6 linked regions of the Homo sapiens genome follow. The protein of the gene in region 3 purifies or fractionates together with the protein of the main gene of each other region. This does not show direct contact. Each region holds a gene or a part of one and is shown on either strand. Other genes may lie near its edges.

Evidence for each region.
Region 1: the proteins of FSTL1 (region 3) and COL12A1 purify together in Homo sapiens (affinity purification with mass spectrometry; one large-scale study listed by BioGRID and IntAct). This does not show direct contact.
Region 2: the proteins of FSTL1 (region 3) and DSG3 purify together in Homo sapiens (affinity purification with mass spectrometry; one large-scale study listed by BioGRID and IntAct). This does not show direct contact.
Region 4: the proteins of FSTL1 (region 3) and CGREF1 purify together in Homo sapiens (co-immunoprecipitation; one large-scale study listed by IntAct). This does not show direct contact.
Region 5: the proteins of FSTL1 (region 3) and SPINK5 purify together in Homo sapiens (affinity purification with mass spectrometry; one large-scale study listed by BioGRID and IntAct). This does not show direct contact.
Region 6: the proteins of FSTL1 (region 3) and NDUFAF6 purify together in Homo sapiens (affinity purification with mass spectrometry; one large-scale study listed by BioGRID and IntAct). This does not show direct contact.

What each region holds. Positions count from the first base shown.
Region 1 is NC_000006.12:75,084,054-75,087,553, forward strand, and holds the end of COL12A1 (collagen alpha-1(XII) chain long), read right to left. Parts: intron 2,505-3,500; coding exon 2,494-2,504; 3' UTR 1,313-2,493; coding exon of another isoform or gene 1,137-1,312; 3' UTR 273-1,136; downstream 1-272. UniProt on the Homo sapiens protein: Type XII collagen interacts with type I collagen-containing fibrils, the COL1 domain could be associated with the surface of the fibrils, and the COL2 and NC3 domains may be localized in the perifibrillar matrix.
Region 2 is NC_000018.10:31,456,906-31,462,510, forward strand, and holds part of DSG3 (desmoglein-3 preproprotein), read left to right. Parts: intron 1-87; coding exon 88-219; intron 220-1,539; coding exon 1,540-1,695; intron 1,696-2,127; coding exon 2,128-2,272; intron 2,273-2,939; coding exon 2,940-3,106; intron 3,107-3,927; coding exon 3,928-4,056; intron 4,057-4,321; coding exon 4,322-4,507; intron 4,508-5,605. UniProt on the Homo sapiens protein: A component of desmosome cell-cell junctions which are required for positive regulation of cellular adhesion. Required for adherens and desmosome junction assembly in response to mechanical force in keratinocytes.
Region 3 is NC_000003.12:120,408,398-120,414,002, forward strand, and holds part of FSTL1 (follistatin-related protein 1 precursor), read right to left. Parts: intron 3,587-5,605; coding exon 3,457-3,586; intron 2,588-3,456; coding exon 2,555-2,587; intron 1,266-2,554; coding exon 1,135-1,265; intron 1-1,134.
Region 4 is NC_000002.12:27,111,631-27,117,235, forward strand, and holds part of CGREF1 (cell growth regulator with EF hand domain protein 1 isoform a precursor), read right to left. Parts: exon of another isoform or gene 2,994-5,605; intron 1-2,993. UniProt on the Homo sapiens protein: Mediates cell-cell adhesion in a calcium-dependent manner. Able to inhibit growth in several cell lines.
Region 5 is NC_000005.10:148,127,960-148,133,564, reverse strand, and holds part of SPINK5 (serine protease inhibitor Kazal-type 5 isoform b preproprotein), read right to left. Parts: intron 2,307-5,605; coding exon 2,176-2,306; intron 1-2,175. UniProt on the Homo sapiens protein: Serine protease inhibitor, probably important for the anti-inflammatory and/or antimicrobial protection of mucous epithelia.
Region 6 is NC_000008.11:95,041,163-95,046,767, forward strand, and holds part of NDUFAF6 (NADH dehydrogenase (ubiquinone) complex I, assembly factor 6 isoform 1 precursor), read left to right. Parts: intron 1-407; coding exon 408-464; intron 465-3,314; exon of another isoform or gene 3,315-3,433; intron 3,434-4,382; coding exon 4,383-4,485; intron 4,486-5,605. UniProt on the Homo sapiens protein: Involved in the assembly of mitochondrial NADH:ubiquinone oxidoreductase complex (complex I) at early stages. May play a role in the biogenesis of complex I subunit MT-ND1.

The sequences.
Region 1 (3,500 bases), on a different chromosome or scaffold from region 3:
TTGTTTGGGGTATCCTAGGATACATAGTTGTTTTTCCACCAACCCACACATCCTCTATATTCCTAATAAAGCCTTTGGAATCTGCTGGGCTTTTTAAGGCTCTCACCACTCTCTTTCTATGACTTCACCGTATCATTAAAAATCTAAAGTTATTTAGCATAATTTAATAGTATTAGCAAGATTTGTAACCGTATCCAAGGATATGAACTTGTTTGTTGTAACAACCACTTGAGGCAGTCCAAAAGGCCCTTCAAAGAAAGAAACATGCCATGTCAAATTTTCAGTAGTTTTATTGAAAAATGCCTCTTTTGTTTCAGAAATAAATAATATAAGGCAGTGAAATTCACAATCTGCAGTTAAAATATAAAAGCAGCAATTCTATGTTCATAGTCTTGCAAATGTTTTCCAACTACTTTTGATAACTAAGAAATATTATATTCTGAAAAAAGTTCATACTAAATATACAACACAAACATGCAATTCCCTCTCTGCAGAATAATCTGCAATTTGGTATAAATGTTAGTGTGTCTAAAACAAGGAGGTTTAAGGCAATATGGAACTGTATCCCGTTGATGCACTAACTTCATCTACATGGCTTAAGGTTTGTGGTTGTTAAAGAGATGTATACGAGCATTCTATGCCCCGGCGTATAACAGAGATAGAAGAGGAAGATAAGTAATTGCAATGGAGTTGACGTTTCCCTCCTTTTTGGTTTTAGGAGGGGAATTATTTGAATCGTGGTGTAATTGAATTGAAAATAAGTATAGCAAAAGATAAACTGCCCGCTCGAAATACACAGCAGCTCTGGGTTCCAGGACTTAACTGCTTAACCTAAGAGTTTCACTGAGGCTGCCCGCTGTGCTAACTAAAGGCACACGGCATGTTCTCTCTTTGCAGCTTTTGTTAACAAAGTATTTTGCAAGCATTTCAAGGGCAAAGGCAAAAATGTCTACAGACTGCGTGCTTGGAGCTAGGCTTCCTGCAGAAACAAGGTTCTCTACAATCAGAAAGGGTACTCCTGGATGAGCAACGCTGGAAGAAACACCTCAGAAAAGACGTACACTGCTCTATCTGACCTGTAAATGAGAATTTCAACACCTCCCCCAAGCCTCGCGGCGCGGCGCGTGATCTCTGGTTCACTGCCCGGGTCCGTGGGGCAGGGCGCGCCGCCAGCGCCGGTGGGGCTCAGGAGGCTCCTCTGCAGGCTCGTCTGCGCCGTAGTCCTCGTATTCCGCTGTCCGCTCGGGCTCCACCGGCACGATGAAGGGCTCGCGCTCAGGCAGGTAGGCCCCGCCCTCGGGCACGTAAGGCTCTGTCCGATTCAACATTACAATTATGGCATGATTTGGAAGGCACACACACACACACACAGCAAAAGCTAAATCATCACCCGCGGTGATGGCACTCCAGTCTTAATCTCATAACTATAAATAGATAAGTTACAATGTCCCAATTATTTCCAGATAATTTGGTGATAATCAAATAATGAAATGGCACTTTCTTAAAAAAAAAAACCTTCAAAAATCCAGCAGTAAACACAATCATTGCACAAATACTTGGGAAGGGTCAGAGACTGGGCCAAAGAACTGTAAACGCAGTAACTAAGTAGGATTTTCGCAAATCCCCAAGTAACTGTTTATGCCTTCAAACTCCTCAATTCAAAGAACAACTTGGAAAGATGAGGAGGTGAGGGGAAGTTTCATTGGCTCCTAGAAACTGAACTCGGGGGGTGAAAAGCAACTATCACCAGGTAATATACAGTACATGACATCTTCTGTGGCTGTACCTCACACAAACTGAGTTACAGCTGGTGGGTGAGGAACACCAGTGACTACAGCAAAACAGGAAGAAAAGGTGATTTTAAACTTTGGTTTGAAAATTGCAGTTACAAAACCCAAATGAGAGGACACGGACAAAAAAGTAACAAAAAGACAGATGCCCTGAATCAGACACATCGCTAACAAGCAAGAGATGAGGAGATTCCATTTGGTGTTATTCCGGCATAGAGCAAGCGGCAGGCTTTGATGCAGAAGCTTATTGTAGAATTGTTAAGTGATTTTAGTCGACAGGATCACATACAAATCATTTACAAGCCACAATTAGTTTATTATTTACATAAGACATTTCTCTTTAACCAGGTTAATTGTTTTTCTTAAAATGGCATAGACTCCTCTGGTTAGTAGTTTTATTATGCACCTCTTTCAAAACTGAGGCTCCTCATGGCTGTGTGTTGGAACTTTTTTAAAATAATGTTTTTCTACATTATTACTGAAATGCATCAGGATTATAAACTGACACCACTGCTTTTGTCTCATTCAAGTTAGTAAAAAGAGTCTCCACCCTCCTTTGTGATGTCGACCCGGTTCGTTAACCATTATCTGTGGTGAGATTTCCATACAGACTCATTTCCTAATAAGCACGTGCGCAAACATCTCAGAAACAGGATTTTCATGTATTCAAACTGTAAGCAGCACTGGCGACTTAGAAAATGTGTTAGCCGGAACCTGAAACAGGTCAAAGATGATAGTTTTTAAAAGTTGAATGACTAAGTAAAAAATATAAATACACATCCATCTACGTATGTAATGGTTAAAGTATATATATATATATATATATATATCCATATATTTTTAGTTATTCTCACATCCCATAAGGAGGTGGTAATTTAAATTTATAAAGAATTAAATTGCAATTTTTTGAATGGGTTGCATGGAAATATACATTAAGATTTGTTATTACTTTTGGTCATATGTAATTATGCATATAAATATATAGATATATAGATATTTAGATATTCAACTACTCATGCACTATTTGAAAGTAGCAAATCATATCAAACAGCAGTATAATTTTTTAAATTTGCAAGATGCTTGAGGGTGCAGTAATGAAATGGTCGCCATTGACCACAGCATGACTATCTTATTTCCAGATTGGCATATCTACCCAGTCCTCACATCCCACAAAATCAAGTATAGGAGACTTCTGCCCTCTACAATTGTCAAACACTAGAATTTCATTAAAAATCCTTTAAAAACAATTATTAAGTCCCAGATTTTATAAATATTAATTCCATGGCTAGTATGGGACAGTTAACTATGTTCAGTTGTCTACACCATATTATTACATAGTTTACCCATAAATTAGATTCCCAAAACAATTTTTAAATACATATTCTTGGCATTTTACAGTTGTATTTAACAAATCCCTGTTCCCAATCTTGGGGAAAAGAAAAAAAAAAAGTCAATTACTAGCATGCTTTGAAGTCCCAAGAGAAGTAAGGGGAGGTTTATGATGTGATTTGGTAAATGCAGAAACATGGGGAAAAAAGAAAATAATTCAATCCTAACAGTGAAATAATGTTGTGTGCTATGATAGCAAACACTATTATTATATAATCAGAACTGAAAGAGTTGTTATCTTCAAGACATCTTCAAATCAGCCTTCCTTCAATCCTAAGGAACTTCATTTCCGTAAAGTTCTTTACTTCAGGTGAGTTGGGG
Region 2 (5,605 bases), on a different chromosome or scaffold from region 3:
GGTTCCTCAACTAGGTGTCTGTAATCAATATTCTAAGCAAAAATTGCCATTAATTTCCATAACAAATGGAATCCCTTTTTACATAAGACTAAAGGTCAATATGATGAAGAAGAGATGACTATGCAACAAGCTAAAAGAAGGCAAAAACGTGAATGGGTGAAATTTGCCAAACCCTGCAGAGAAGGAGAAGATAACTCAAAAAGAAACCCAATTGCCAAGGTAAGTTATATCAACAGGAGCGTATGAGTTTTTAGAATAAATGTATAAGGTGTAAATTAAAATAATACGGCAATTCCAAATAACAAAATGAAGACTGGGGAGTCCACAGAACAAGTGAACTGGTATCCTCAACAAAATAGTACAATAATAATAATAATGAGAGAAAGAGAGAAAGGAAGGTAGCTTCTAGGGTTATGAAAAAGAATTGAGACAAAGAATTGAGACATATTGACCAATTTTAATATAGAAGGCTTACTTGGATACAGAGTCTAGCAAACAAATAGGAAAAATAATGCATGTATAAGACAGAAATGGTTGGGAGCAAAATATGGATTGGTCATGTATTGATAACTGTTGAAGCTCAGTGATAGGATGTATCAGGTTTATTATACTATTCTCTTTCTTTCTTTCTTTCTTTCTTTCTCTTTCTTTCTTTCTTTCTTTCTTTCTTTCTTTCTTTCTTCTTTCTTTCTTTCTTTCTTTCTTTCTTTCTTTCTTTCTTTCTTTCTTTCTTTCTTTTTCTGAGATGGAGTCACTGTGCCTCCCAGGCTGGAGTGCTGTGGCGCGATCTCAGCTCACTGCAACCTCCTCCTCCCAGGTTCAAGCAATTCTCCTGCCTCAGCCTCCTGAGTAGCTGGGATTACAGGCGTGTGCCACCATGCCCGGCTAATTGTTTTTGTATTTTTAGTAGAGACGGGGTTTCACCATATTGGCCAGGCTGATCTCGAACTTCTGACCTCATGATCTGCCCACCTCGGCCTCCCAAAGTGCTTGGATTACAGGCATGAGCCACCACGCCCAGCCTGTTATACTGTTCTAACTTTACATATATTTCACATTTTTCATGTTAAAAAGCTTTAAAATTACAATAATAATAAGTAAATTATTTTAATACATATTTTAACCCTACCATACAATCTCTTTCCCTTTTTGTCTCTCCACTTCCCCCTATTTAAACTAAATAAATATCTTTTGTTTTTTAATGTTGTCAGGTAAAGAGGGAGCCTTCAGGAGTAGCCTTGTCAATATTAAATGACTTTGACTTTCTTTTAACATTTTAACACTATCATGTGGCCACAGTCTGAGCAAATATTCTAACACTAAAATGATTAGTGCACATCATTGGTTCAGGCTGGTTGTCAAAAACAACGGTTTGATTTTATTTCATATTCCTAGTATCTATCAAGGCAAAAAGTAAATGGCACAATGTCAAAAAGAGTGAATCGAATGAACAGATGACTTTAGACTATGGAAGTGGGGGTGGAGAGGGAAAGGCTTGAGTGATGGTCACCTCAACGTTTTTGGTATTTGGGGCTGTAGATTACTTCAGATTACCAAGCAACCCAGAAAATCACCTACCGAATCTCTGGAGTGGGAATCGATCAGCCGCCTTTTGGAATCTTTGTTGTTGACAAAAACACTGGAGATATTAACATAACAGCTATAGTCGACCGGGAGGAAACTCCAAGCTTCCTGGTAAGTTTGGGTCCTCAACATTGGGCTACCCTTCTCCTTGTATACCATCGCTTTAGAAAGTGACAGTTTTCTACTGGTAAATTTAGAGGAGAGTTCAGTACATGCATCAGTCCACCAGCAAATAACAATATTAGTCCCTCCACAGAGCCTCGCCTGAGGGAACACAGCAGAGGGTGCATGAGTGAGGGTTGAAATCTAGCACGCCAAGTGCTTCAGTTTGCCATGACACAGCATTAGCCTGGTGGAAGGGGCAACTTGCCCAGTTGGTCTGCCCAGAGCAGGCACCTTTTTCCACTTTGTCTACCCTTTGGGGAAACATTTCTTCTTTGCACAAAAGTGATGTCCATGCCAACAGAGGCCTTATTTATACAAGTTTTAATAGTATGAAAACTGATTGCAGAGTAATACTCCACATTTTCCCTCTGTTCCTAGATCACATGTCGGGCTCTAAATGCCCAAGGACTAGATGTAGAGAAACCACTTATACTAACGGTTAAAATTTTGGATATTAATGATAATCCTCCAGTATTTTCACAACAAATTTTCATGGGTGAAATTGAAGAAAATAGTGCCTCAAGTAAGTCTTTTACAGTACTTACCACTTTCAGTTTATCTACTTTCAAATATGAGTCCCACTACAATATGTCATTCTTATAAACTAATTTATGCTCTTAGTTTAATCAGTAGTTTTGAAAAATAAAATTCATTAAGATAAATCTGGGTCTTCCTTTCTAAAATGTGTATTTGAGCTAATTATTTACTATCACTGTATTTCTAGTTATAGTCTGGTTATCAGGTCAATAGTATCTTATTCTATATATACAATTTATATGAGCATTTGGCAGTCACAAAGCTAAACAGGCAGCCTTGGGTAGCCTGGATGCATCAGCTGGGCTCTTTCAGGTTATAAAGGACAGAGACACACTCACATTACTTGGATAATTTGTGGAAAGGGGAGAATTATGACAATCTATCAAGGGAGAAAATTGAGATAGAATATAGCCTCAATCTCAGCAAACGTAAGGCTTAGAGAGAATCGAAGAGTTTGTATGGAAGGAAGCACAGTTCTACCTGGTTGGGAGAGACAGAAAGAGGTATCACAAGTGATATACAATTTTTTGAACATACAGATGATTTTAGGATATTTAAAAATTAGCATCAATGTGAACTTGTTTGGAATATTTAAAGTAAACATAATGTTAATTGTTACATATTCTTTAATAAACGTTTTCCTGTATTCCTAGACTCACTGGTGATGATACTAAATGCCACAGATGCAGATGAACCAAACCACTTGAATTCTAAAATTGCCTTCAAAATTGTCTCTCAGGAACCAGCAGGCACACCCATGTTCCTCCTAAGCAGAAACACTGGGGAAGTCCGTACTTTGACCAATTCTCTTGACCGAGAGGTACAGCAAAGCACTTGGGGGAACATTCAAGATTAAAGGGTTTGATTATAAGAAAACCAAGAGAGGTGACTCCATTTTACCCGAAAATTAAAAAAGAAAAGAGGTTCTCAGTACTTAACTTGGCTAATCTAGGGAAATTGTTTGCATTTTTAAGTGTGATTCTGGTGAGGCGAGATGTGTACCGGGCACCTGCAGAATCAGTTGTACCCTGAACATACCAGTGGAAGTTAAATAGGGGCAATGAAAGAAGGCATTGACATAGACATACATGGACAAAGATTGAACTGCAGCTAATTCCTCATGTGATGGAGGAGAAGCAAGTGTCTTAGATGAAGGGAGAAATTTCTGTCTGGAATAAAGCCTTCTTTTATATCACACTTTTTCTCCTGACTTCTCTTAATTTTATCCCTGCTTCCAGAGCACTAAAGAATCTCCTTCTCCAATCCCCCTCATTACCTACCACCACCACCTTCTATCTCCATTACCACAGGCTACCCGGTCAGACCCCATATTATTTTTGTACAAATGGCTTTCCCAATAGACTAACAGAGAAGCTCCATAAGTGAGCTTATTACTCCCACCCTACTCATTGCCCATTTTTGCTCTAAGGTTACGGTAGAGTACAGTCCTGCCATAAGAAGCTCACAAAACAGAAAACCTGCCCTAGCCCCTTAAAGACCTCCACCCAACCATCCAGAGTCCCACAAATGTCTTCTACATAAAATTGAATATTTCTACCTCCTTACCCATAGGAATCAAGTAGTTTCCATTTATAATTCTTTGGGATTAATTATTTTTCTTTATTTTTTATCCAAAATTAGCAAGCTAGCAGCTATCGTCTGGTTGTGAGTGGTGCAGACAAAGATGGAGAAGGACTATCAACTCAATGTGAATGTAATATTAAAGTGAAAGATGTCAACGATAACTTCCCAATGTTTAGAGACTCTCAGGTACACCCATTGCTCCTTAAAGAATCATTTAGATATATATTTAATACTTTGAAATCCTAATTCAGGACTTGCCTGTTTGTTGGCTTTTATTTAAGTTCTCTGCACTTATCTTTAAAGAAATATGCTTTTTAAAAAATATAAGAATTCAGTAATAAGAAGAAGGAAATACATAATTTGAGAAATAAGGATTACCATTTAGAAGAAACATAATCTCTCCATGTAAAACCTGTCATTAGGTCTTTAATTCTGCTTCTCGCCTTTTCAGTATTCAGCACGTATTGAAGAAAATATTTTAAGTTCTGAATTACTTCGATTTCAAGTAACAGATTTGGATGAAGAGTACACAGATAATTGGCTTGCAGTATATTTCTTTACCTCTGGGAATGAAGGAAATTGGTTTGAAATACAAACTGATCCTAGAACTAATGAAGGCATCCTGAAAGTGGTGAAGGTAAGGTCTGACTTCCCTTCATTGGTAAAAAAAATTCTGTATTAACCAAAATGATCATTTCTACAGATAAAATGTATTTATTTGTTAATATCACTTTATTACAGAAAACACATAAAAGTAGATTGAATTTTTTGTAATCCCCATAGAGCCGCTTTACCTGAGGACAACCTCTCTTAACATCTTGAACTCATTCCAAGCTATTGAACTTTCTATAGTAAACACAAACACACTAACATGCTATGGGAGTGATGATGTATACTTTAAGCACATGGTCATATATTATGGGTGTCCATACTTTAAGCACAAGAAAGCAAAACACATTTCTTGACTTAATCTCATTTGCAACAATCAGATTGAAGTTAGGACAAGATAAGAATGGATGGAATCACGTCTTGCCCATTCGTCAATCGGTTTTAAATGGATTAGCTACAGTCAATAGAGAATAAATGGCAACTCTTCCTACAAAATGGGAATTTATGAACAAAATCTGCAAAATAAAAGATAAATAATTGGGTAAAGCTTTTAATATGCTTGGCTATGACAGACTCCTTATCTGAGAGTGTGATCTGGGCCCCTTCCTTGGTACAGCACTTTGGTTTTTCGTTTGGTTGGTTGGTTTTTGTTTTTTGTTGTTGTGGTTGTGGTTGTGGTGTTTTTGTTTTTGTTTTTGTTTTTTTTGAGACAAGGTCTCACTCTGTCATCTAGGCAAGAGTGCAGTGATGTGATTTTGGCTCACTGCAGCCTTCACCTCCCAGGCCCCAGTGATCCTCCCACCTCAGCCTCCTGAGTAGCAGGGTCCGCATCATGTGCCATCATGCCCGGCTAATTTTTATAGTTTTAGTAGAAATAAGGTTTCACCATATTGACCAGGCTGGTCTCGAACTCCTGATCTCAAGTGATCCACCCGCCTTGGCCTCCCAAAGTACTGGGATTACAGGCATGAGCCATCGCATCTGGCCCTTGGTACAGCATTTTGGATTCTATGAGAGCGTCCTTATTTAAACCTTAAATCCAGTTGAGTGACAGACCATATAATCCTTTAACAAGGGGGCTGCTGAAAGCTGTACATGCAGTCCTTTGTTACTGTACTCTTTGGGA
Region 3 (5,605 bases):
GACACAAGTGAAGTCTTAAATGACCAAATATCCATTTGAAGCCAACCCAGTATTTCTTCATCTGCGGGTTCTATAGTGTCAGAAAGAGAAATCCACAGACTAGACTGGCATTGGCCACATTAGGTGGCCTCAGAGCTGCCAAGAAAAGTCCTTCATGTGTCTGAAGTTGCTCCTGAGTCCTGGCTGGGTTGGGCCCTGGAAGCATGTGAGGGAGTAGATGGCTGGGGCATCTACCTAGTGAAGAGGGCTTTGGTGCTTGCATGGAAATGTGGGTATCTGAATGTGTCTGCATGTAGGATGTGTCTCTGTGTGGCATGTGAGTCTCTGTATGTGGTGTGTGTGTGCGTGTCTGGCATGTTTTGAGTTTAAGTGTGTCCTTCTCTGTGCTTCTGAGTGTGATATTCTGAGTGTGATGTACCTGTGTGTGTGTCTGTTCTTGTCAATCAGCTGTAAGAATGCCCTTAATTGCTTCTTCTAACTCTCAAGTTCTGTGAAAGATCTGCATGGCATGATAACCCGAGCCATCACTAAATATTATAGCTTCCTTCATTTCTCTTTGTGAAAATAGCATCTCTCCTGCTCCCAAGTGGAACACTCTGTCTCTTCAACTAATTATGATTGGGAACAGCAATATCTAAGTTCAGGAACAATCTCTGGACCCATGAAATGCCAGTCCATTGATTCTTCTCATATGAAGACTCTCTCCAAGCCATTGGCAGTCAAGTTAATGACTTAGAGAAATGTCAAACTAGGCAGGAAAGAGGCCAAAGTGGTCCAGGTCTGGGTGCAATCAGAGGGAATTTTGTATTAACAGCCAGATCCATAAGGTGTCATGGCGAGTAGGGGACAGAGCTTGGCCCTAACTGACAGGTTCTCCAAGACCTTTGTGGCTTTCACTGCCTGAAGGCAGCAGCACATGTGTGTTAGATCCCAAAGACTCCACTGCTTACTCCCACTGATCAAGCTGGTCAGAAGGCAACTTTCACAGCTTCATGAATGATCTATGATGAGGAAACTCAGGGTGTCTGTGCAGGTTTACATTTCCTGTGGTCTGGGAAGGTGTGATCGGGCAATGGGAGGAGGAAGCTTCCCTTTCTATGGGCCTGAATAGTCTTCCTCCTACCTCTGGATTACCTTAAAATACTTGTCTAGGATTTCACTGTAGTTGCTGCCTTTAGAGAACCAGCCATCTGGAATGATCTCAGCTTCCAGCCACTGGATGATGCGACGTCGGAGCTCATCACGGTTGGACTGATAGCAAACAACTGCAGGAAAGTGGAGGATGTCAGCTGGAGCAGTCAGGGGAGGACCCCAGTGATATCTGGCACCCACTGTGTGGGAGCATCCGTGCCCATGGTTCTGCATATGTCATCCCAGCAACACAGGGAGATAGGATTAGCACATCCAGGGTACACAACTGGAAAAAGTCTAGCCCAGGATTCAAGCACCCATCTCTAAAATATTTGTAAAGATTGAGAATATTGAAACAGAGAGATTTTGCTGCTTATGTGAGAAATAACTAGAGCAGAAAAATAATAAAGGATACTTTCATTAACTTTAGGAAGCTGAAGGGGAAAAAATCAATAAAGCAGCTCTCTTGACTCAAAGATGAGCTGAAATAATACATGAATAAATGAGAATATTACAGTTTTTATGCTACTAGATTTCTGATTTTCTCCAGTTTCTCCCTTTCTCACCAACTAGGTCCATCCAAACTTCCCCCCACTTACAACTGTATACCACCTGCATCATCCTTTATTATGAACAACAGAATGTGAAGGCCAGTGAGGGCTACGTCGAAGCCCTGCTCTGGACAGCTGTTGTCCACTGGAAATAACAGGGGGTGCTGAGAGTTGAGTGGATGGGGAAGCAGAGGAGAGAAAGCTTTGGCAAAAGAGAATTCCTGGAAGACAACACATGCTGTGGGTGAAAAGGGCACTGGGCCAGGGGAATGAAAATCTGGGAGTTCTTCCCCAGTCTGCCAATTACTAGCTGTGTGATATAGAAAACTCACTTAGCCTCTTTGAGCCTCAATTTCCTCATCTATATGGTAATTACAATAAGATCTACTTCACAAAGGCTACCGTGAGAATCTAAGGAAAGTATGTGCAAAAAAGCTCTGTAACTATAAATCATGATAAAATTTTAGTGATCACTAATAGAAAACCACAGAAGTCTTACTGGCATTTCCAGTTATCCCCTTTCAAAAAGAGTTGTGCCTTCTATTTGCTGGTCCCATGACACGAGCATGTCTTATAGGATGTTGAAAAATGAACTCAGTGGCTTTCCTGTTTATGCAGTTCAATCACTACTCAGGAAAAATGGGAAAACACAGCCAACATTCTGACCCAACCAGCTGCTTCAATTGGCAAACACATACACAAATGTAGTTTTGCAGCTTTTCTGAGCTGTGTTGAGGAGTGGCCAGTTCTGGGACACAATTCTGATGCATAGAAGATCTTATGAGCTTGGCAGGGATTGTGGAACACAAAATTTCTATCATGAAAAGAATGTCCTCCCTGAGATGCACACAGTAGAAAAAATAGGCACTCACCTGGGCTGGCAGATGGACTTACGGATTTCTTCTCTGCAAGACAAAAAGAGAAAACGTGTAATGCGAAGTGAAGGAAAAAAGAAAATTTTTCTGTATTTCTAGGATTACAGCTGCTCTACATGTAGGGGAATGTTTGTAACCTTTTCATCATTTTGTCTTGAATCCTTTCCCTTCCTTTCCTTCTTCTAGGGCCCAGGTATGAGGATCTTCTGTCTCCTGCTTTGTCTGACAATTTAGGGCCACTGAGTTACCCTTCTGGCCTCATACCTCCTCCTGTTGCATTGAGGGGTCACTGGGATTTTGAGAATTCAAATGGAGAATCATTCTGGACAGGGAATGGAGTGGAGACAATCACCTGGGAAACAGCTTCTTGTTTCTTCAAGGAAGGGCAAGGCTGAGAGGGGCTGGGCAGGGCTATGGCTTGGCAGGGGGCTGGTATCTAATTAGCAACAAGTGTGGGACTTCTTCCTTCTTATTCTAATGGCAGTGGTTTCAGTGCAAAATAGAGGAAACAATACTGAGAGGTGCCCAAATTAAAAAGCATGGGAAAAGTGAAACTTACCTACTTTCTAAAAAGGTACATAATTCATTTAAGGAACTTTCTTATTGTTACTGATTTACTGATGGGGTCCACCCTATCTACTATCCAGCTGCAGACAGTGCTGAAAACCCCCATGGGGATCTGATATAGCAAACCCTGGGCAGAGGCCTGGGCCATCCAGGGCAAACCCAGCAGGCTCATAAGTGACAAGAGGATGCAACTCCAACCAACTGGGCGCTTTCCACAGCTTTGAGAGGCTGTGGTCGTGGAGGAAAGACCATGTGGTCAGCCAGGCCACACTGCTCTGTTCCTTGGCTCCCCGTGGCTAAAGCTGCCTTGCAGTGGTGAGAGCACACCTTACCTTTGCAGTGTCCATCGTAATCAACCTGGATTTTGGATCCAGTGAGGCAGGCATCTCGATGCAGTTCACAGTGGTTGAGGTAGGTCTTGCCATTACTGCCACACACAGGCCTCTTGTGAGGTTTGCATTGCTGAAACAGACCCAAAAGAGAATGTTTGTGCAGTTATGGATATCGACACACAGACACACACACACACATACATGCACACACACACACAGAGCCATTTTGTAAGGGGACTCTCCACCACCAGAGATGGTGCTTCTACCCCATCAGGGCACAGGCAGTCACAGTTCTGGCCAACTGACCCTGTCTCAGTTGCCTATGGCCCTTCATGCCTATCCTGGTCCAGGGTCATCTCTTCTATTCAGTGAAGAAAGAGACACCCTCTATAGTTTCAATGTTTGTGATCCCTCCAAAATTCATGTTGATACTTAATCCACAATGCAAAAGTATTAAGAGGTGAGGCCTTTAGGAGGTGATTAGGTCATGAGGACTCCTCCCTTGTGGATGAGGTTAAGAAGTGAATAAAACAGTCTTCCTACAGCATTTGGCCCTTTGGCCCTTCTGCCTTCTGCCATGTGAGGATGCCACATGCAAGGTGCCATCTTGGAAGTTAGAGACCAGGCCCTCACCAGACATCAAATCTGCTTGCACCTCAATCTTGTACTTCCCAGCCTCCAGAACTGTGAGAATTAAATTCTTATTATTTATTAATTACCCAATCTCAGATATTTTGTTATAGCAGCCCAAACAAACAAAGACACCCCCCACATCAAATGAGCAGAAAGGGCGTTTTATTAAAAGCCAGAAATTTGAATTCTCTGTCACTTTGGAAAAAGTAATTTAATGTCTCAGAAGATCTAAGATCCCTTAATATTCCAACATTCAATGACACAAAACAGCCAGAGCTGAGAGCTGGGAATGTGGAGAGGCTGATAGGCAGGCAGGCAAACACACACACATGTGCGCGCGCGCGCGCGCGCGCACACACACACACACACACACACACACACACACACACTCCAATTCTTCTGCAGCCTAACTGTAAGGATCTCTTGCTGTATATACTATTGGGGGAACACTTTGTTTTCCTCCTGATCTCAAGCCTTTGTTGTGAAGCTAGGAGTAGGGTTGCCTGGGTCTTTGTGAAGTACTACAGAGAATCATTATGGACAGGGAAATGGAACAAAGTTCATATGGCAACTAGGTTATGCTTTGGCTGCTGAAGGTGCCAAGATCACAGGCAAGTTCAGTTTCTTTGGACTTCTATGGTTTTTAAAGGGGAGAAGCAGGAAGTAAATTTAGCTCAGATCCAATAAAGAAAGGAACTGAAACAAGAAAGAGCAGATGGTAAAAAGAAGCACAGAGCACTGGAAGTGGATGGCAGCCCAACCTTTCCAGTTTTAGTTGAGGATACCAAAAACACAAATTTCAGTGAACCAATATTTATTATGGAGTGCTCACTATGTGCTGGGCAACGGGCAAAACCAAATGTGGGCACTGTCTTCACAGCATCTCCTGAGACCTCAGGTTTGGTCTCAGCTCACCCACATCTAGTTGTACAATTTTTAGGATCAGGTTTCTAGATCCTAAGTCCAGGCTTATGCCACCACACTGTGGCCAGGTACACTGCCAGTGAGGACCTCCCAGAGCTAATGGATCCCCAGTAGGATCTGGCTTTTAGGTTTCTGAGTTAGAAAACTTCCTTTCTGGGGCAACAAATCAGGATCCTTAACCTGGGGACTAAATTGGTTGTATTTAATTTGCAGAAAGACGTGTTTCCAGGCTATGGGTTGTTTTGACAGAAAACAGAATGTCCAAGGTATTTATGTTCACTTTAGTGGCAGAACTTGTCAGAATCCAGCCTACAAAAGAAGTATTTATCAAAGGCTCTCTTTGTTTTTTAAACATTAAAAAAAAAACTCCCTCTCCCTCTCCCCCTCCCCCTCCCTCTCCCTCTCTTTCCACGGTCTCCCTCTCATGTTGAGCCGAAGCTGGACTGTACTGCTGCCATCTCGGCTCACTGCAACCTCCCTGCCTGATTCTCCTGACTCAGCCTGCCCAGTGCCTGCGATTGCAGGCTTGCGCCGCCATGCCTGACTGGTTTTGGTGGAGACGGGGTTTCGCTGTGTTGGCCAGGCCGGTCTC
Region 4 (5,605 bases), on a different chromosome or scaffold from region 3:
GGCTGCAGGTCTCGAGCCCTGCCCCGCGGGGAGGCAGCTGAGGCCCGGCGAGAAGTAGAGCACAGCAGCTGCTGGCCCAGGTGCTAAGCCCCTCACTGCCCGGGGCCGGCGGGGCCGGCCGGCAGCTCCGAGTGCTGGGCCCCCGAGCCCACGCCCACCCGGAACTCGCGCTGGCCGGCAAGCGCCGCGCGCAGCCCCGGTTCGCGCTCGCGCCTCTCCCTACACACCTCCCTGCAAGCTGAAGGAGCCGGCTCCGGCCTTGGCCAGTACAGAAAGGGGCTCCCACAGTGCAACGGTGGGCTGAAGGGCTCCTCAAGCGCGGCCAGAGTGGGCGCCAAGGCCGAGGAGGCGCCGAGAACGAGCGAGGGCACACACTGTCACCTCTCACCAGCACTTTGGGAGGCTGAGGCAGAAGGATTGCTTGAGCCCAGAAGTTGGAGGCCAGCTTGGGCAACATAGTGAGACCCCCATCTCTACAAAAAATTAATTTTAAAAAATTAGCTGGGTGTGGTGGTGCACGCCTGTAGTCCTAGCTACTTGGGAAGCTGAGGTGAAGGATGACTTGAGCCCAGGAGGTTGAGACTGCAGTGAGCTGTGATTGTGCTGCTGTACTCCAGCCTGGGTGACAGAGTGAGACCCCATTTCAGAAAAAAATAAACCAAAGACTAAAAGAACAAATAGAAAAGGCACAAACAATATTAAGAAGGAAAATAGGGACATAACTAAAGAAACAGCAGAGATTTGAAAACTTAGAGGATATGGCCAATTTCCTAGAAAAACTTAATAGCAAAACTGATGCAAAAAGAAATAAGCTTTGATAGTCTTACAATCACTAAGGAAACTGAATCAGTGAGTATTAACCTTTACTGCTTCTGGAACTATAAACCTGAAATGTTTTTAGAGAGCAGTCTGGAAATGTGTATTAATTTCCTAAAACTCTGACCCAACAATATCGTCTTGGGGATTACATAAAAGAATATAAATGGAAAAGAAATTACAAAGATATGTATAGCTGTGCTATTAATATTAGTCAAACAAATGTAAGCAACCTGAATGTCTAACATTTAGGCAATGGCTGAACAAACCATATTATGTGATAGAACCATTAAATATAATACATCAACTCAGAAAGTTTAAAAGGAAAAAATGAGCAGATTTGAGTATATCAAAAGTTTAAACTTCTGTGTCATGAAATATACCACAAATCACGTTCGAGGAGACAAGTGACAGAGAACTGAAGGAATTGCCGCTAGTGTGTGGAGGCTTCCCGGGTCCCCAGAAGGGTGGGGTTCCACCACCTGGGCCTCAGCAGGAAGTAGAAGACAGAAATCTCCCTAGAAACCCTATGGGTACTGAATGGGGTCCAGGAGCCGCAGAGATGAGTGCCTTGTTTCCAGGAAGGTTAGAGAGAAGGCCCTGCCTACAGGGTGCCTGGGAGGTCAGGAAGCAGCAGCTGAAGGAGGGTCTGGGTGAATGGGCAGAGAGAGGGCTGCCTCTCCCAGTTCTTTGTATCTAGAGTGCTGCTGGTTTGAAGAAGGGGGCTGAGGTCAGCTGAGGGTTCCAGTCTCTAAGGTGGAAGGAGGGGTGCCTAATGGCTGAGAGAGCCAGTTGACCAGGAGAATGCCAGAAGTTCTGGCTCCCTGGCCTGGGTGCCACAGAGAATACCATGGAAAGCACCAACAGCTGCCACATGACAAAGACCAGAGGGCAAGCATCCGTAGGGAAGGCAAGTTAGATATAAGTTTGTACAATAAGGATAAATATTCATTTCTTTAATATTTATTGAACACCTGCCATATGTGAGGCACTCTCTTATCACTAAGCTGATCTCTTAAGGTCGAATTACTTTTTCTTTTTCCCCCTAAAGCTTGCAAATATGTAAGTAGGAAAAGATACAAATGTTAACGCAAGAAAAACACAGAATTGCTATGGAATAGGTGGTACGGCCCAAAGTTGGGGGGTATGGGCCCTGACCTCAGGCTGCCTGTGTTCAAATCTGGGCTCCGCAGCCCACTAGCTGTGCGGCTTTTCTGTGCTTCAGGTTCTCCATCTGTAATGCGGGGCTGACGAGAGCACCTCTGGCAGGGCTGTGGTGAGGGTTTAATTAATGAGACAAGATGTGTAAAGTGCAGTGCCTGATCTACAATAAGGCCTTTTTCCTTCCAAGAGTTCATCTGCACGGCCCCACAGTGGCTTCACACACCCCCTTCCCACCTGGCTCCTCTCAAATTGCTTTCTCCACCCTATCTGTTTACTGCTAGGACCCAGGCCGACAGGAGGCACTGGAGTCATTTAAATCCCTCAGAGCTGTCAAAACTCATCATCCAGCCTTCACGTGTTCTTACATACTAGCAGGTGCCTTTTTTTTTTTTTTTTTTTTTTTGAGACAGAGTCTCGCTCTGTCACCAGGCTGGAGTGCAGTGGCGTGATCTCGGCTCACTGCAACCTCCGTCTCCCAGGTTCAACCAATTCTCCTGCCTCAGCCTCCCAAGTAGCTGGGACTACAGGTGCACGCCACCACACCCAGCTAATTTTTGTATTTTTAGTAGAGACGGGGTTTCACCATGTTGGCCAGGATGGTCTCGATCTCTTGACCTCGTGATCCGCCTGCCTCAGCCTCCCAAAGTGCTGGGATTATAGGTGTGAGCCACCACACCCGGCCCTCAGATGCCTTTTAAAGGAGGATGTCTGTGAACTCCAAAGGATGACTCTGGGGGGAGCCGTTCAGGCATAAAGGGGAAGCACCCCTCAGATCCACTCATCCTCTCACTCATTAGGCCACTGTGGTAGCTTTAAAAACCTGTCTACACATTCTTTGACATTCCTTCCCACAAAACTTGGAGTCTAACTCGCCTCCCCTTGTATATGATCTGGACTTAGTGACTGGCTTCTAATGAGTTGCTGAAATGGTGCTTACATGACTTCCAAGTCCAAGTAATAAAAGTGACCTAGCTTATGCCTGGTTCTGGTTCTCCCCTTCACTTGACACACAGATGTGCACCTCTGGAACCTTGAGCCACCATGGAAGGAGCCTGGTCTCCCCGAAACCACCCTACGGAAGAGAGAGTGTGGAGAACCCACCTAGAAACAGATGCCTGAGAAGCCTCCAGCTCAAATCTTCCCAGCCCAACAACCAGACAGGGGAGAGAGCCAAGCTCCGGATAATTCTAACCCCCAGCCTCTGAGCTGCCCCAGCCAACACTGAATGCAGTAGAAATGTGCTTGTCTCCACAGCCTGCACTCATGTGCAAAGTCAACATCAACGTTATCTTTTTGTGTGTGTGTGTGTGTGACAGGGTCTCACATGTTGCCCAGGCTGATTGGAAACCCCCAGGCTCAAGCAATCCTCCTGCCTCGGCTTTCCAAAGTGCTGGGATTATAGGCATGAGCTACCATGCTGGGCCCATTATCCTTTTAAGCCATTACATTTTGAGGTGGTTTGTTACACTGCCATAGTAATTGGAAAACCAACCATGTAAGGGCTGGCTTCATGGGTGTGCGTCCTGTGAAGTCACAAGTTCCCCGCTCTCAGAGGGGCCCTGTGCTTAGGCTAATGCTCTGTTGTCACTATCTTGAAACTCTCAATCATTTTTGCACCGAGCCCTGCAAATTATGCACCTGGTCCTGAGTCCTACCCCGTGAATGACTATCACTCTCCTCTTCTTGGTCCTATGTACCCCTCATATATTTAACTCTTCAGTATGTTTAATGGACAGAAAACAGAGCTTTGGAAACAGCCAGACCTACTTTTAAACCCAAGCTCCACCACTGAGTGTCCCTGTGACCTTGGGTAAATTAATTTTTCTCACTAAACTTCAGTTACCTTATCCACATACTGGAGATAATATTTACCTCACAGGGTTACAGTGAACATTAAATGAATAATGAATTACTTCTGGCACAAACTAATATACAAGCCTTTTAGTGTTATCCCTGTCTCTGGTATTTTCTCCACTTAAAGAACCCTCCACACCCACATCAGATAAATCATCCTTTGCTAGAATTCCACTGCTCTAGAACCTTCAGTGGCTCCCTATTTCGATTACAGTCCAGAATCTTCACCTGGGCATTCAAGGCCTTCTACAATCAGATATCAAGTTACTGTTGACTCATCTTCCAGTGCTGTATTATGATAGCACACTGCTTCAAACCAAGGAGTTATTGGAGTCTCCTAAAATACTTTCCACTTTCACTTTTCAGTGCTTTTGCCCAACCTGTTCCATCCTCAATCTGGAATGTCCTGGGCCCTCCTGACAACCTTAGCATTCGGTTATAGCCCACCTCAAAAATGCAAGTGATTGGGCTGAGTACAATGGCTCACGCCTGTAATCCCAGTACTTCGCAGGCCAAGGCAAAAGGATTGCTTGAAGCCAGGAGTTCGAGACCAGCCTGGGCAGCAAAATGAGACCCCCCCCATCTCTAAAAAAAACAAACAAAAATTGTTTTTAATTAGACAGCATGGTGGCTCAAATCTATGGTCCCAGCTACTTGAGAGGCTGATGCAGGAGGATCACTTCAGCCCAGGAGTTGAAGGCTGCAGTGAGCTATAATTACACCACTGCACTCCAGCCTGGATGACAGCAAGATGCCACCAAAAAAAAAAAAAAAAACAAAGGCCGGGCATGGTGGCTTACACCTGTAATCCCAGCACTTTAGGAGGCCAAGGTGGAAGGATCACCTGAGGTCAGGAGTTTGAGACCAGCCTGGCCAACATGGTGAAACCCCATCTCTACTAAAAATATAAAAATTAGCCAGGCACAGTGGCACGTGCCTGTAATCCCAGCTACTTCGGAGGCTGAGACACGAGAATTGCTTGAACCCAGGAGGCAGAGGTTGCAATGAGCCAAGATTGTGCCATTGCACTCCAGCTGGGGTCACAGAGCAAGACTGTCTCAAAAAAAGAGAGAGAAAAAAAAAAGTAAATGATGTGGACTTTCAGTATAATTTTTTTTTTTTTGAGATAGAGTCTCACTCTGCTGCCCAGGCTGGAGTGCAATGGCGCGATCTCAGCTCACCACAACCTCCACCTCCCGAGTTCAAGCGATTCTCCTGCCTCAGCCTCCCGAGTAGCTGGGATTACAGGCATGTGCCACCATGACCTGCTAATTTTGTATTTTTAGTAGAGATGGGGTTTCGGCATCTTGGCCAGGCTGGTCTTGAACTCCTGACCTCAGGTGATCTGCCCACCTTGGCCTCCCAAAGTGCTGGGATTACAGGGATGAGCCACCAGGCCAGGCCTATTCTCTCTCTCTCTCTCTCTCTCTCTCTCTCTCTCTCTCTCTCTCTCTCTCTCTTTTTTTGAGACAGAGTCTCGCTCTGTCACCCAGGCTGGAGTGCAGTGGCGCAAAATCTACTCACCATAGTCTCCACTTCCCAGGCTCAAGCGATTCTCCTGCCTCAGCCTCCCAAGTAGCTGGGATTACAGGTGTGCACCACTACACCTGGCTAATTTTTGTATTTTTAGTAGAGACGGGGTTTCACCACGTTGGACAGGCTGTTCTCGAACCCCTGATCAAGTGATCTACCCACCTTGGCCTCCCAAAGTGCTGGGATTACAGGCATGAGCCACTGCACCTGGCCAATATTCTAAGTAATGCTTCCAACT
Region 5 (5,605 bases), on a different chromosome or scaffold from region 3:
TGATATATTCATAGAGAATGTTGGAAATAAACTTGGAGATCATCTGGTCTAAAGGTGATCTCGCATTTATAGATGCGAGAATCAGATCCCAGAGAGATGTTTGACTATATTGAGTACCAATAATACGACCTGGGGAAAAATATAACAAGACACAAATGATACAGTCTGAGTTTTGTAGTTGGAATGAATCTTAAGGAGTACGAATTTTAATGCCTCTCACTGGAGAAATATTATGAATCAGACATGTACTTGTTTGCCTCTGGTAATGGGAAACTCATTATCTATCAAGGCAGTGCAATTTGTCTTTTAGCATTGCTTAAATTGAAATTGCTCTCATATAACTTTCTCTAAAACCTTAGAAATGAATATTGTTTCCTTTTGCCTCAGATAACCTGATCCTTCTTTATAATATCTACTCCCAGCTCCCTTAGCTAAACAAACTATCCTGAGGTATGCTTTCTTAATATTTTCATCATTTCAGTTTCTTATGCTAAATTTCCCTTAAAAAGATCACTTGTTATGGGTCTATAAAGTTGATGAAAATGTTGAAGAAAATTATATGGATAATTTAGGCCCTGACATTTATAAGAAAGAGGAATTAAAGGATTTCTGGGCTGGAGATAAGGTATATATAGTAATGGAATTCCTGGACAGTTATATTTATTCCTTAAACGGGAATTTCTTAATTCTTAAAAACCTATAAGGTCTACAGATGAATTTCAAGTACTCCACGAGCCTATGAATATTATGTGTGTGGATTGTTCATATCACATTTTTTTAAATTTTCTTGAAAGGAGTAACTTTCTTCATATTATCTAAGGAATCTTTGGTCTTTGACAATTTAAGGAACTACTGTCTTAGAAATAACAGTAGTTTAGTGGAGAAAAAAGAAAACTGTATTTAGATCCAAATCAATAAGGTCAAAATCCTGTCTGATTTACTCCCTAGCTTTGTAACTTTAAACAAATTACCTGGACTCTCTGAGCCTCAGATTAACCTTCTGAACAATAAAGATAATAACATTCCATAGCAGGTTGCAGGGATTCAGTGACTGAAATCTGAAAGTGCCTTATCTACCATACCTTACCTATAGATGAAGTATACCTACCATACCATACCTACCATACCTTACCTATATCTACCATACCTTACCTAAAAGATGAATTCTTTTAAATATTTTTCCAGGATTAAAAAGCAGGATATCAGGGAGTCCTATCCTCATGTTCTGGGCCTTGCTTATAGTGTCCTAAGAAGGATAAAGTAGTACTACAATGTAGGTCTGGGGTCAGGTGAGATGGGAAAACCAAGGTTTGTCACCATTCTCTCCTTGAAAGCTGGCCAAATGGTGGCCAGGAGAAGGGAAGGGATGCATATAGAGACAAGGGGAAATTATTTAAAAATTATTTTAAAATTCAGACAGCATTTGAGCAGAGTAGCAACAACAAAACTAAAGCCAATAATAAGAGTATTAAAATGAATCCCTTGTATTTAACTTAAGATAAAAATATTTTCATATCTAGCAGTTCTTTTCAATCATCTGTGAAGTCAGCAGCTCAGAGAACTGTCTCCATTTCTCCAATGAAGGGAGTGAGATTCAGAATCATGAAATAATATGCCTCCAGATACCCAGATAGTCATAAATATGAGAGCAGACATCAGATCAGCTATTTATTTATTGGGCTTTCTTTTGTACAGTGCACTTTCCTTTTGCAAGGTACTACTTCTTTCAAGAGGCAGGGTTAAAGAAATGGGGAATATGTAGCTATATTATAGTCACAGGACCTTTTAGATATAATACACTGGGCTGGGTTATATAGCAGTAGTTCTCTACTGTTTTTCTCCACTACACACAGAATGAATGATGTTCACACTCCCATGACTGTACACAGGATTATACCAATATTCTGCAATTGTAACTCCACTATTTTTTTTCTTTCTCTTCTTCTCAGTAGAGCATATAACAATGTAGGTAAGCAATTTACCAAAGGAATAGCCTTAAATCTTTTCTATTTTACATATAAGAAAGATAATTCACAAATTTTGAATTTTTAACTTCTATGATGAATAAATTACTTGCAACACATTTCGAATTTATATCAGTGCATTACTATGGGTTAACACTCTAGCTGAGAAATTCTAAACTGGAAGATATGATGGGGCAACTTGAATACTTACAGGTTTTCATGACAGAGCATGCAAGGATTGTTGTAGGTTTGGCCATCGTCACCACAGACAGGCTTTAAATCCTTTGGACAAAGATAACCTATCCTGGGCAATACTCGGTAGTCTTTGCACATCTCAGAATCCTGAAGAAGCAAAAAATAAAGCAGACGTACTTTATGGCATTCAAGAAGAGGGGTGGGCTTAAGAAAACCTCTTGAGTTCCTTAATCCAACTTGAATAAATGGTTGTAAAAGGAGTGTGATATATGTTATTCAAACTCAAAGATTGATTTTGCACCATATGAGGTGGATTTAACTTCCTGTATTTGGCAATTTTTAACTTGACAAGGTAAGTAAACAAAGAAACAAGGAGTAGCAAAGCAATAAGAAAGCAAATATCCTTTATAATATGTGACACAATTACCTGCCCATAAGAAGAAATCTAGAATGATAGGCATGCCAGAAATAATATTCGCCTTTTTAAGTGAAGGTATTGGTTATATACAGCCTAGAAAGGAAAGACTCAGAGGTAAATACTCATAAATTGCATGAGTTTTTGAGTCCTAGCTCTACCACTAACTAGAGAAGTAACTTATCTAACTTTTCTCAGCCTTAATTTTCTCACCAGAAAATCATAAATAATAGTAGTCCTTACTTTATATTACTGCTTGAAGGGATTAAAACAGATAATGCATGTAAGTTCATGCTTAACGCAGTATCTGTCACATACTAAGTGTTCAGTAAATTTTAGTTGTTAGTATGTTTTCCACGGTAAAAAACATATGTATATTTTCCATGTAAAAGAAGAAACATATTTGCTCTTCGTAGTGTTTTGGAAGTATGAGTTTAATAATTAATGATAATTCCAAGACCTTGATTAGTTTTTTAAAAAGGCAAAAAGTAGAGCCAAAATATAAAAAAAGTATTCAAAAGCAAATAGGATGATGGAAGACTTAAATCCAATGGTATCAGTAATTACATAGAATATTAAGAAGTAAGTACTCCAGTTAAAAGACAGAAATTATCCAACTGGAAGAACAAAAAGAATCAACTATATAATATTTATAAGAAATATATTTATAAGTAAAAGGATGAGTTCTAAATAACTCATGACTCAAAGTAATCATAGAATTTAGAAATGAAATGAATCACAAAGAAAATACAACCTATCAAATCCCAGCAGCCAAAGCAGTAATTTGGGGGAAAATTATAACTTTAATACATATATTAGAAAAGAAAGAGGTTCTAAAATGGATGATCTAAACTTTCATCTGAAGGAGCTAGCCAATGATGAGCATAGAAAATTTTTTAAAATAAGTAATAAAGAGGAGAAATTGATGAAATAGAAAATAGAACAAAGCCAAAAGTTAGCTGCTTGAAAAGAATAAGTTGATAAGCTATTTGCAAAATTGACCAGAGTCAAGAAAACATATATTACCAATATTAGAGATAACAGGTCATCACTATATGAGCTGTAGATACTAAAAGAATAATTTAGAAATGTTATAAATAACTACATGCCAAAAAATTTGACAACATAGATGAAATTAATAAATTCCTTGAAAACTACTTACTGAAAACAGATACAAAGACGACATAGAAAATTTAATAGTATTATATCTGCTAATACTCATTTTGGAGGAGTCAAGCAGTATTTGTGTACTTGTTCCTTTGTTTTGATAAATGATTCAAACACCTAAATGAATTGCTTTAGATTGTGGTGAGTTCCATATTGGTACAAATATTCACAGAGAATTTAGATAAGTAACTTATATGAAACCCTGGCAAAGGTTAGACTCAACCAGGTATATCAATTGTATTTTTTCAGGTAACTGGTGCTATAATGTTCAAAAGGTACTACAATGTTCCTTACTCTCTCTCTCTCTTCATTTTTTTAACATAGTACATCAACTCAAAAAATTCTGTTGACTCCACCTTCAAAACAGACCCAGTATCTTACCACCTCTCAAGAGCTCCACCACTACTAACATGGTATAAACCAGCATCATCTCTTCTGTAGACAACTGCAATAGCTAACTAGCTGTCCAGCCCTTGCCTCCCTGCAGTGTTTTCAATAGGTATCAGGCAAAGTTATTCCTTTAAAACATAAATCAAATCATATTAGTCTTCTCAGAACCTTCATTCAGAATATTAGGCAAAGTCTTTAAAATTGTCTACAAAACCCTTTATAACATGGCCTCCCATTAGCTTCCTGACTTCCTCTTCTACAGCTGAGGTAGCTCTATTTCAACAACACTAAACGCTTTGCTATGTTTTCTCTCTGGAATATGTTCTCCTCAGATATACCTACAGAATCAATACCCTTAGGTCTTGATGTAAATGTCACCTTCTGAGAGAGTTATTCTCTGTATATGTCACTTAAAATTGTATCCCCTCCCCTCCCCATCTCAGAATTTACTGTACCATTTTTTTCTGCCTTATTTCCTCCTTGGCATTATTTTTTCATTTATTCATATTATTTATTGTATCTGCTTTTCCAATATACTATGAACTTCATGTAGTGAGCGCTATCTGTTTTGTTTATGGCTATTAACCTAGCATACGTAAATAATGCCTGGAGGCCGGGCGCGGTGGCTCACGCCTATAATCCCAGCACTTTGGGAGGCCGAGGCGGGCGGATCACGAGGTCAGGAGATCGAGACCATCCTGGCTAACACAGTGAAACCCCGTCTCTACTAAAAATACAAAAAATTAGCGTGGTGGCGGGCACCTGTAGTCCCAGCTACTCGGGAGGCTGAGGCAGGAGAATGGCGTGAACTGCGGAGGCGGAGCTTGCAGTGAGCCGAGATCGCGCCACTGCACTCCGGCCTGGGCGAAAGAGCAAGACTCCCTCTCAGAAAATAAATAAATAAATAAATAAGTAAATAAATAATGCCTGGAAAAATAGCAGGTGCTCAGTAAGTATTTGTAGACTGACAAAAGGACTGCCGGCTTGATGAAAAAAATGAATAATGAAAGATTTATTTCTCCAAAAGAAATAGCTCCAAAGCAGACTGTAGCTTATGAGGGAGAATGAGGGGGCTACTGGTCTGCTGATGATATCTTATTTCTTGCTGCTATCACAGGTATGATCACTTTGTGATATTTCATTTAGCTATTTACTTGCATATGTACATTTCTTCTATGTAACTATTATACTTTAGTATTTAAAAAAAAAAACATATTTTGTTAATAGCTCTTCTCCATGCCTTCGGATCCCTGATGTGGAGCTCAATTTACCAGAAATATGTAATTAATGCATATTTCATGTATGTAACTCATCTATTACCCTAGTTGAATTGGGTGAATAATGAAGTAAAATTCATGTTTGATACCTTTCTTTCTCCTTTTCTGGGTCATCAGCCTAGGTGCTAAAATCTTCCTTTTAGGGCCCAATCTGAGAATCTGCTTGATGTTCTCATATCCTCTTTGCTCCTTTCTAC
Region 6 (5,605 bases), on a different chromosome or scaffold from region 3:
ATAATTTGAACACAGAAGTTCAAGACCAGCAACATAGGGAGACCCTGTCTCTACAATTTAAAAAAATAAAAAAGTCAGGGTATATCACTTAATAGAGAAGCTCAGTACTTAATGCTTAATTCTGGTTTTGTTTTGTTTGAAAGTGGAATTGTTAAATTATTAGCAGTATAGGAAAAAAAGACAAGTTAGTAGAAAAGTATTAGAAGTATAGTCTTATAAATGTTTTGAAATATTTTCTAGGGACATTTTCTTTTTCCCTGATACTTCTTTAACATAGCTGTCTATATGGTGATGTTATTACAAATGTTCCCTTACTTAGTTTTGTATTTGGTTTGTTCATTTTATTCAGATCTACAGAAGTCATTTCTAGTACTTTCTAAAAACTTATAATGCTCTTTGTTTTTTAGGCTGTTAAAAGACATAATCTGACTAAAAGATGGCTTATGAAAATCGTCGATGAAAGAGTGAGTCAAAATTGTTCAAGTCTTAAGTTTTTTCTTCCTGTTTAATTCTTAAGCTAATTCTTCAAGAAGGACATTTTTTGACTGTATATTAATATTTTGGAGGAAGGAAACTTTTAGAGAATTATGCCATTTTATTCATACTTTACCCTTGCATGCTACCCCCCATACCCTCACATTGAGACAGACAAGCACCAAGGCAGAGGCATGTGTATGCACAACCACACTCCACTATTTTGGTTTTTTCAAAAGGAAATTTTCATACTTACATAAAAGTAGAGAGACTACTCTACATGTGTAGAGTATCTGGTGACATGTTAAAGAAAATCCCAGACATCTTATCATTTGATTTGTAAATACATATATATCTTAAAAAGATAAAGACAAAAAACATAGCCATGATATGATTATCATACCTTAAAAATTACTAATTATTCCTTAATATCATCAAATACTTGATTAGTCATACACATACCTTTAAATATACCCCAGTACTTGGATCGGTGTCTAAATAGTAGAGGGCATAAAGAAAGTCTGACAGTTCCAGTGAATGGAATCCTGTACTAAATTCTTAGAACTGAGTTCTAGGTCCAGCCAAGTCAGTGAATTGCTGTGTGACCTGGCCTAACATGTGTGACCTTTCTGATGCATTGTTAGGTCTGTGTTCCCCTTGGCCTGATATTAATTACATGCTGTTGTCATGGAAATATGTAAGTTTACTTAGTTTATTTAGATAGTTTGCTAACTATAGGCTGTAGCAATAACAAGAAGAAGCCAAAAAGATATATTAGCTAAGAAGACCTATTTTCAGGTGTCATCTTTTCTGTTTTACAAGGTAAAGAAAATTAGGGAACTCAAGACAGAGATACCATTTTAGTTTAATGAAAAATAACACTTGGCTTTTGAAGGGGGGGATATTTAAAAGTAAAGAACTGTGAACAAACATTGATCTATAGATTCAGTGCAATCCTTTTCAAAATTCCAGCTTTCTTTTTTGCAGAAATTGACAAACTGGTCCTAAAATTCATATGGAAATGCAAGGGACCCAGAATAGCCAGAATAATCTTAACAAAGAAGAACAAAGTTAGAGGGCTCACATTTCCTGATTTCAGAACTTAACTACAAAGCTACAGTAATCAAACTGTGTGTTACTGATAAAGGGTAGACATATAGATCAATGGAATAGAAATGAGAGTCCAGATATAAACCCATATATTTATAGTCAATTGAGTGACAAGGGTGTCAAGACACTTCACTGGGGAAAGAACAGTCTTTGCAACAAATGGTGCTGGGACACTTGGATACCTCTTGCAAAAGAATAAGTTTTGACCCCTCCCTCACACCATATACAAAAATGAACTCAAACTAAATTAAAGACCTAGATGTAAGAGCTAAAACTGTGAAACTCTTAGGGGAAAGCATAGGTGTAAATCTTAATGACTTTTAGGTTAGGCAGTGGTTTCTTTTTTTTTTTTTTTTTGAGATGGAGTCTCGCTCTGTTGCCAGGCTGGAGTGCAGTGACACGATCTCGGCTCACTGCAATCTCCGCCTCCTGGGTTCAAGCAGTTCCCCTGCCTCAGCCTCCTGAGTAGCTGAGACTACAGGTGTGCGCCACCACACTCGGCTAATTTTTTTTTTTTGTATTTTAGTAGAGATGGGGTTTCACCATGTTGGCCAGGATGGTCTTGATCTCCTGACCTCGTGATCCACCCGCCTCAGCCTCCCGAAGTGCTGGGATTACAGGCTTGAGCCACCGCGCCCTAGGCAGTGGTTTTTTAGATGTGATACCAAAGGCACAAGCAAGAAAAGAAAAAATAGATAGATTGGACTAAAAGAAAAAAATTATTTGCCAGTTATATATCTGATAAGGGACAATTATCTAAAATATGCAAGAAACTCTTACAACTCAAGAATAAAAAAAAAATCCTAATTTAAAAATGGGGAAAGGATTTGAGTAGACATTTCTCCAGATAAGGTGTACAAATGACCAATAAGCATCTGAAAAGATGTTCAGCATCTTTTCATTAGAGAAATGCAAATTGAAACAAAGAAACATCACTTCACAGCTGTTGGGATGGCTGTGATAAAAAAGAAAAAAGATGCACGATAACAAGTATTGGTGAGAACAGGGAGATGTTAAAACCTTTCGTACATTGCTGGTGGGAATGTGAAATGGTGCAGCTGCTTTGGAAAAATAGTTTGGCAACTTTTTCTTCGAAGAGATAAACATAGGAGTTATCATAGACCCAGAAATTCTACCCCTAGGTTTATACCCAAGATAAATGAAAACATATGTCCACCCAGAACTTGTATATGAATGTTTGTAGCAACATTATTCATGAAAGCCCGAAAGTAGAAAGAACTCATAGTCTGTTAATGAGTTGTTAAACAAAATGTTGTATATCCATACAATGGAATATTATTCATAATTTATTCAACTAAAAAGAATAAAGTACCAATAGATGAAGCAAACAATATGCTAATTGAAAGAAGCCAGATACAAAAAGCTACATATTATACGATTCCATTTGTATGAAATGCCCAGAATAGACAAATCCATGAAGATGAAAAGTAGATTAGTGGTTTGCCAGGGCTGAGGAGGGGGGGAAATGGGAAGTGTCTGCTTAATGGATGCAACTTTTCTTTTGGGGGTCATTAAAATATTCTGGAATTAGATAGTAGTGATAGCTGCACAACTTTGTGTATATACTAAAAACCACTGAATTGTATTATTTGAAGGGATAAATTTTATGGTATGTTAATTATGTCTCAAAAAAAACCATAAAGGATGCATTTTTTTTCCTGGAATCATTGCTGATGTCATTTTCTTTTTTTTTTTTTTTTTTGAGACAGAGTCTCACTCTTGTCGCCCAGGCTGGAGTACAATGGCACGACCTTGGCTCACTACAACCTCCACCTCCCGGGTTCAAGTGATTCTCCTGCCTCAGCTTCCCGAGTAGCTGGGATTACAGGTGCCTACCACAATGCCCAGCTGACTTCTTTTGTATTTTTGGTACAGACAGGGTTTTACCATGTTGGCTAGGCTGGTCTTGAACTCCTGACCTCAGGTGATCTGCCCATCTCGGCCTCCCAAAGTGCTTGGATTACAGGCATGAGCCACCGCACCCAGCCTCTTTTTTTTTTTTTTAAACCCTGCATGTGGCATTTGATGCTGGTGTTAGTTTTTTCTGATTTTAAAGAGGGTGAAATAGGGGATAATATTTTGCCCTAATAATAGTCTTTGTAAAAGTGGCTAAGTGTTCTCGCTATTAGATTCTCATTTTTCTGTTTCTTGCATATAGTGTATCTAGGGAATCAACCCTGTTATTTTATTGAGCATGGTTTCTTTTTAGGGGATGAGGTGGGCACTGGTTTCTGTTTTCTTTTTCTAGGTACCTTTTCCTCATTGAGCATGTAGATTCAAGAGTCAAATATGTGGGTTCCCGTCCCCACCATTTATTTATTAACTGTGTGTCTTTGGACATGTTAATGTGTCCATGCCTCAGTTTCTTCATTTGTAAAATGGGAAAAGTATTAATTCCTTATCTCTTGGAGGGGGGGTTGTTTGGGTTAAGAAGATAATGTCTAAAGTGCCTACGTAATGTCTAAAGTGCCTATGTAAGAGCTCAGTAAAGTCAGTTTATTTTGATAACTTGGGCTTCAGATGAAATTTAAAAAAAATGCCATGTCCATGGTGATTTGTATATTGAGGTTATTCCTGATGTCTTATTTTGAGGTGGTGATTTCAAAGTATTGAATGTGTAGAACTTCAATATTGTAATGTTTTATCTTATTGTGTACTAAATAACATATACTGAATATTTTTATTCGTTATTCAGTTCTTTGGGGCAAAAAACAGCACCTTTTCTTTCTAAAATATTGACAGTTCAACAGACTTTATTTGCATTTTATTTGATGTAGGAAAAAAATCTGGATGACAAAGCATATCGTAATATCAAGGAACTGGAAAATTATGCTGAAAACACACAGAGCTCTCTTCTTTACTTAACACTAGAAATATTGGGTAAGTTGTTTTTCTGTTTCATACTTCTTTTTTCCAATAAAATACCTATGAGATTTCACTTTTTCATAATTTGGTAATCTAACCAGTTTAGCACTAAAGCCTTCCTTTATACTATCTGTAAAGGAACAGTTTTTTTTGTTATTATTATTAGCAAGAAGAAGAATTTATATCTCTTTCTTTGTAATGCAGAGTAATCCAAGACTCAGGCTCTCATACAACTACTTTACCTCATGGGAATGTTGAAATTAATAATCTGGTAATTGCAAGTGGCTTTACTTTTTTACTATAGCATCTCCTACAATTTGGAAGGCCTATAGCCTGACTCTTCCTTTCGTGTTAATAGTACTTATCCATGGAAAAAGAAAAGTAGAAGAAGTAAAACACATTTATTTTATTTTATTTTATTTTATTTTATTTATTTTATTTTATTTTATGATGGAGTCTCGCTTTGTCCCCAGGCTGGAGTGCAGTGGCTCAATCTCGGCTCACTGCAACCTCTGCCTCCCGGATTCAAGTGATTCTCCTGCCTCAGCCTCCTGAGTAGCTGGGACTACAGGGACGTGCCACCACGCCCAGCTAAATTTTGTACTTTTAGTAGAGACGAGGCCAGAATGGTCTCGATCTCTTGACCTCGTGATCTGCCCGCCTCGGCCTCCCAAAGTGCTGGGATTACAGGCGTGAGCCACAGTGCCTGGCCTAAAACTGCATTTATAAAAGTTTTTGAGATTTTTCTTTCTCTGCTTTTTTAAAAACAAAATTTTGATGGTAGGATTTCTTCTCTGACTTTGTTGCCAGTTAGTGAGGTCTTATTGAAATAAGGAAATTATTTGGGCCAAGGACAATACCATCTCATTTGAAGAAGGTAATATATATCTCTATACCTCCCTAAAAGAATAATACAAGTCCCCATTGCATCTCCCAGGCCTATTCTGGCCCACAGCTCTGGTGACATGTTTGCCATCACAATGAAAGGAGGGAGCAAAGAGTAGAATGTTTGTTAAGCATATTCTTAAAATGAGATCATATGGAAATTGCACAGAGGAGAAGAAATGGAAGACTTGTAAAGTTTTTCCATGATAGCCGATTAAAATTCTAAATGTGTTCTTAGTGTGCTGTAGTC